Homo sapiens: one gene and its partner. The protein of the gene in region 2 purifies or fractionates together with the protein of the main gene of each other region. This does not show direct contact. Each region holds a gene or a part of one and is shown on either strand. Other genes may lie near its edges. The genes, in order: FABP3 and NME5.

Evidence for each region.
Region 1: the proteins of NME5 (region 2) and FABP3 purify together in Homo sapiens (affinity purification with mass spectrometry; one large-scale study listed by BioGRID and IntAct). This does not show direct contact.

Annotation. Positions count from the first base shown.
Region 1 is NC_000001.11:31,364,464-31,367,456, forward strand, and holds the end of FABP3 (fatty acid-binding protein, heart), read right to left. Parts: coding exon 2,930-2,993; intron 1,477-2,929; coding exon 1,423-1,476; 3' UTR 790-1,422; downstream 1-789. UniProt on the Homo sapiens protein: FABPs are thought to play a role in the intracellular transport of long-chain fatty acids and their acyl-CoA esters.
Region 2 is NC_000005.10:138,122,272-138,126,102, forward strand, and holds part of NME5 (nucleoside diphosphate kinase homolog 5), read right to left. Parts: intron 1-3,831. UniProt on the Homo sapiens protein: Functions as part of axonemal radial spoke complexes that play an important part in the motility of sperm and cilia. Does not seem to have nucleoside diphosphate kinase (NDPK) activity.

The DNA of each region.
Region 1 (2,993 bases), on a different chromosome or scaffold from region 2:
AGCAGGAGGTCCTATTACCCTCTCCAGCTGCCACTGCCAGAGCTGGATTCCTGTAAAGGAGTCCAGGCTAGAGCCACAGAGACTGTTGTGGAGGTGAGTTCGGCTGTAGTTAGAGTGATTGGACCCTTCCTATTGGTCTGTCCTGGGCCAACTGGTGGGTGATCTCTGCTGCATCCAACATGGGAGCAGAGACTGGCAGCAGGAGGGGGGAACATGGTGAGAAGTGGTGCTCACTTTTCCCATTCCTCCTAACATAGTTCTACTATGCTAGAAGTGGCATCCAGCGGCCACAGCTAGAAAACAGTCTGCAGTGTGACTTAACTTGTGTATTGCATTCCAGCAGACCACTGAACCAGACAGCGAAGCCAAGATCATTGTTCTACTTTGTATTTACTACTGTGTGAATCAGTTGATTCTACTTCAGGTCCTTGCTTAAATTCCTGTCACTAAATGGAAATGTGTTTGGTTTTAAACTTACTGAGTTATTTTTCCTATAATCCTTCTTCCTGGGTAACTTACAGACTTAAAGTCACTGAGCCTGCATTAGCTGACAAAAACATTTAATATGTTACCTTAGACCTTGGAGAGATGCCCAGCAGAGGTACAGAGCCAAAGGCACTAGCAGATCACTGCCTTCTTGGGAGATCACTTATAAGCCCTCCCTTTTGTAATGATCAGATGCCCTCTTCCCTCAGAGTTGATTAGAGAAGCAGTAAGAATTTGTAGTCATAAGTACTAGCCTGGTGCACAGGTCAGCAGTCCTCTTGGCCAGTGGTCATTTTCTCCCACCACCATGGTACAAGCCTGGGTTCTGTGCCCTGAACCTGAATTCTGGAAAGGGAGAGACTACAGCATTTCACAGAGAACAGCCAGACCCAAGAGCTTTCAGTGTAGGATGGGCCTGAAGTGACAGTTCAATAGCCAAACCTGGGGAAGCCCCATCACTGACTGAACTAGGTCATTTGACCATGGAGGGGGGGCAGTGTAAAGGCAACGTGTAGGTACAGCTCTTTTATTATTAAATGTGTAAGGTGATCAGCTGATTAACAGGCTCCGAGACTGTCCATTTCAGTCTCCCATCCAGTGCTTCTTCCTCAGTAACCTTCAGGCCGTTATTTCTGCCCACTCTCTGACACACAGGATAAACCAAGACTCCCAGAGTTATGTTACCAAAGGCAAAAAGGCAACTGGGTGGCCTTGGCTCTGCTTTATTGACCTCAGAGCACCCTATGAGTGCAGTTAAAAAAAAAAAAAAAAAACCACATACACCATGGGAACTGGAACTGGATCCCGGTCAGTGGCACCTGACCCCAGAAGAATTCGTGGATTTGTACAAAATGCAGAGGAAGAAATGAGGCAATGTGGTGCTGAGTCGAGGGGTAGCCGATTGGCAGAGTAGTAGTCAGCAACAGTGCAGTCAGGTCATGCCTCTTTCTCATAAGTGCGAGTGCAAACTGCAGTGCCGTGGGTGAGTGTCTGGAAGGAAAGACAGAGTGAGATGGGGGGTGGAGCCAGGAACACCATTGCGAGCATTCTACCCTCCCTTCCTCCTGATAATTGTCACTTGAGTACCTACTATGTGCCGGCTATATGTATGTATGTGTGTGTGTGTGTGTGTGTGTGTGTGTGTGTGTGTATACATACATAATTTTTTTTTTCTGATATGCACAGCAAATCCTTAAGATAGGCATTGTAATTCTTATTTTAGAGATTTGGAAAAAACGAGCCTTTAGAGAGGAAGTAATTTGGTCAAGATCCTGAGTGTTTTTCCTTCCCTTATACCATTTGGCTTCCTTCATCCTTAGTGTCTAAGATGGTGCCTGGCATATAGTTGACAAATAGGAAAAATATCCAGAGACTCAGGAAAGGACTGTGTTTGGCTACTAACTCCAATCCTTCCCTAACTTAGAGTAGTGCCAGGGCCAGAGCCCTGTACCTCCCACTATCCGGTCTGGCATCATAGAGCCAGACCCATGGCCTCACCATAGTTCAGCTGCCACTGAGAATTTGGTCCTGCATATCACATCCCCACCAAAGCTAGGCACCTCATTCCAAACTTCAAGGGGACCCCTGTCCCACATGAGTACAAGAATGCAGTTAACAGGTTATGCTGACCCAAGAAGGTGTGCAGTGAAGATGCCTAGGTGAAAACCTGAGGCCCTGTGGTTAGGCAGAATCCACAGTTGGCTGCTCTCCCTGGGTCTGGGGGGAATTCAGTCAAGGCTAGATTCTCCAAGTGAAGTCCCCAAGCTTGAACAGATCTGCCAGCCTGGCTGTGGTACTTCCTACCCAAGCAGTAGTCAAGTAGTTTCAGTAGGCCAGACATAGAAAGCATGAAAATGGGGTAGGACTAGAATGGGGAAGAAAGGACTGTACTGTCATTCAGTGTCCCCACCAGTCACGAGCCTGTCCCTGCAAGTGACAATGCAGTCCTAGGGAGGAGAGGAAAGGGAATGCTGAGATAGGCAATGGGAGCCCCTCCTAGAGGGCCTGGGATCAGATTTGGCCCTGTTTTCTACTTCTTCCTGAGGTGAGGCAAGGTAGAAACACAGGAAGAGCAAACAAAGGACATGGAGCACCTGCTGTGTTCCTCAATCAGTGATGCTTTGTGCTGTGCATACACTGTCTCTTACAGGCTTCCCAGCAGCCCTACAAGGTTGGTATTATTAATACCCGTTTTACAGTTGCACTTGGAAAAGGTGATTTGCCCACAGTCATGTAGCCTATAAGGTAAGATTTGAGTTCCGGCCTGTGTGAGTCCAAAGCCACTACACAGAAAATTCCCACCTGATACCACCCTGACCCACAACCACTCTCTTGTCCCAGCTTCTACAGCTCTCAGGGGAGGACTTGGCTTTTTAGAACAGGCTTGGCTGAAAGAGCAGTAGTAATAACCAATCAGATATAGCTCCAAAGTTGCCCATCTTACCAGGATGAGTTTTCCATCAATTAGCTCCCGCACAAGTGTGGTCTCTTGCCCGTCCCATTTCTGC
Region 2 (3,831 bases):
CTACTAAAAATACAAAAAATTAGCTGGGCGTGGTGGTGGGCGCCTGTAATCCCAGCTACTCGGGAGGCTGAAGCAGGAGAATCGCTTGAACCCAGGAGGCAGAGGTTGCAGTGAGTTGAGATCGGGCCACTGCACTCCAGCCTGGGTGACAAGAGCGAAACTCTGTCTCTAAAAAAAAAAAAAAAAAAAAAAAAAAAATTGTGCCTAAATATTATATTATTTTTAATGTCATTGTGAATGGAATTTTCCTTTTTACAGCTTTATTGAAGTATTACTCATGTACACAAAATTGCACACAATTAATGTATACAATTTTTTCTCAATATGGGCAAATGTTTTATTCATATATTATATAAAGTTCATTATGCCAATTTATCAGGTACTAATCATTAAACAAAAATTTTTTTAATTTTTTTTTTTTTTTGAGACATGGTCTTGCTCTGTTGCCCAGGCTGGAGTGCAGTGGTGCGATCTCGGTTCACTGCAACCTCTGCCTCCTGGGTTCAAGCAATTCTCCTGCCTCAGCCTCCTGAGTAGCTGGGATTACAGATGCATGCCACTATGCCAGGCTAATTTTTTTTTATTTTTAGCAGAGATGGGGTTTCACTATGTTGGCTAGTCTGGTCTCGAACTCCTGACCTCAAGTGATCTGCCCATGTCAGGCTCCCAAAGTGCTGGGATTACAGGCATGAGCCACCACCCCTGGTCCCCCAAATTTTTTTTAACTTATAAGTGTACTTAAAATTTCTTTTTATTTTAAAAGCATGTCATCCTTGCATAGGGGCCAAGCTAATCTTCTCTGTATCGTTCCAATTTTAGCATATGTGCTGAAGTGAGCACAACAAATTTTTTAATAGATAAGAAATATTGTATACATTTATTGTGTACATGTTGTTTTGAAATATGTAAACACTATGGAAAGACAAATCAAGCTAATTAATATATGCATTACCTCAAATACTTATCTTTTTTTGTGGTGAGAACACTTAAAATCTACTGTCTTAGCAATTTTCAACAACACATTATTATTAACTATAGTCACCATGTTGAACTTATTCCTACTATCACAGGAATAAGTATCCTTTGATCAACATTTCCATCCCCTACTCTCTCTTGCAAGCTCCTGGTGGCCACCATTCTACTCTCCGAGTTCAAGTTTTTTTAGATTCCACATATAAGTGAGATCATGTGATATCTGTCTTTCTGTGCCTGGCTTATTTCACTTAATATAATGTCCTCCAGGTTCATCCATGTTGTCAAAAATGACAGAATCTCTTCCTTTTTAAGGCTGAATAGTATTACATTGTGTATATACACCACATTTTCTTTATCCATTAACCCACTGATGGACACTTAGGTTGATTCCATATCTTGGTTATTGTGAATAATGCCACAATGAACATTATTGTGGTTCATTGGTGCAGGTATCTCTTCAAGATCCTGATTCAATTCTTTCAGATATATATATCCAGCAGTGGGATTGTTAGATCATGTAACAGTTTTATTTTTAGTTTCTTGAGGAACTTCCATACTGTCTTCCATAGTGGCAGCACCATTTTTAATCTCCACCAAATGTGTACAAGCATTCCAATTTCCCTATATGCTTGCCAATATTTACCTTTTTTTCTTTTGATAATAGCCATCCTAACGTGTGAGGTGATATCTCACCGTGGTTTTGATCTGTATTTCCCTGATGATTAGTGATTTTGAGCACTTTTTTTTTTTTTTTTTTTTTTTTTTTTGAGATGGAGTCTTGTTCTTGTTGCCCAGGCTGGGGTGCAATGGCGCGATCTTGGCTCACTGCAACCTCCACCTCCTGGGTTCAAGTGGTTATCCTGCCTCAGCCTCCCGAGTAGCTGGGATTATAGGCACGTGCCACCACACCTGGCTAATTTTTTGTATTTTTTTTTTAGTAGAGACAGGGCTTCACTTTGTTGACCAGGTTGGTCTTGAATTCCTGACCTCAGGTGATCTGCCAGCCTCGGCCTCCCAAAGAGCTGGGATTACAGGCGTGAGCCACCACACCCGGCCTTAAGCACCTTTTCATATACTTGTTGGTTATTTGTATGTCTTCTTTAGAAAAATATCTATTCAAGTCCTTTGCCCATTTTTTAATTGGGTTATTTAGGGGTTTTTTGGATATTGATTTGTAAGAGTTCCTTATATATTTTAGACATTAACCCCTTATCAGATACATGGTTTGCAAATATTTTCTTCCCTGGAATTGTTTTCTTAATTTCATTAGTGAATTATTCATTTATTTATTTATTGAGAGGGTCTCACTCTGTCACCCAAGTGAAGTACAGCAGCGCAAATGCAGCTCACTGCGGCCTCGACCTGCTGGGCTCAAGTGAATCTCCCACCTCAGCCTCCCAAGTAGCTGGGACCACAGGTGTACACCACCACCCCCAGCTAATTTTTTTATTTTTGGTAGAGACAGGGTCTTGCCATATTGCCCAGGCTGCTCTCAAACTTCTGGGCTCAAGCAATCCTCCTGCCTCTGCCTCCCAAAGTGTTGGGATTACAAGTGTTAGCCACCATGCCAGGCTAGGGCTGAATAAATTAATGAGAGAATAAAAAGAGTGTTTTCATGTTTCTTACATGGATGAACTTTAAGTTTTTTAAGTTTTCTCTCATCCTTGTTTTATTTATTTATTTGTTTGTTTGTTTGAGACAGGGTCTCACTCTGTTGTCCAGGCTGGAGCACTCTGGTGCCATCACAGCTCAAACAGCCTTAACCTCCTAGGCTCCAGTGATCCTCCCACTTTAGCCTCCAGAGTAGCTGGGACTACAGACATGGGCCACCATGCCCAGCTAATTTTTTATTTTTTGTAGAGATGAGATCTTGCTATGTTGCCCAGGCTGGTCTCCAACTCCTGGACTCAAGTGATTCTCCCGCCTCAGCCTCACAAAGTGTTGGAATCACAGGTGTGAGCCACCACACCCAGACTGTATATTTATTTTCAAATATAATCATTTTGATAGCAGGGATATCTTCTTATTCAGCTTTGCATTTATGGCAAATAGTAGGCAACTTAATAAATTTGTTGAAGAAATGGAATATAGCAAAACTTTGAATTAGCCATTTATATTAAAAGGGAAAAGAGACCAGCCTGGGTAATGTAGTGAGACCCCATCTCTACAAAAAAATTAAAAAATTAGCCGAGCATGGTGGTACACACCTGTAGTCCCAGCTACTCAAGGGGCTGAGGTAGGAGGATTGCTTGAGGACAAGAGTTTAAGGTTGTAGTGAGCTATGATTGCACCATTGCATTCCATCTGGAGTGACATGGAGAGACCCTGTGACCACCCCCCAGAAAAAAGGGAAAGAAGAGAGCATTACTTTTTTCTTTTCTTTTCTTTCAGACAGTCTCACTCTGTCACCCAGGCTGGAGTACAGTGGTACAATCTCGGCTCACTGTAACCTCTGCCTCCCAGGTTCAAGTAATTCTCCTGCCTCAGCCTTCTGAGTAGCTGAGATTACAAGCGTGCGCCACCACGCCTGGCTAATTTTGTATTTTTAGTAGAGACAGGGTTTTACCATGCTGGCCAGGCTGGTCTTGAACTCCCAACTTCAAGTGATCCATCCGCTTCAGCCTCCCAAAGTGTTGTGATCACAGTTGTGAGCCACCACGTCCAGCCAGCATTACTTTTTTCAAGGGTTAAGAACATGCCTTTAAATATCTTGATAACTTGCTTGAGTGAATCATCGTATAAAGTTTTGCACATAGTTGTTCATCAACTGCTAAGTAAGAGGACGCTCATACCACAAACTCTGAGTACTTGCTCCAAAGAACTTCACAGCAAAAGAGCTACAATGTGCTAAGTAAT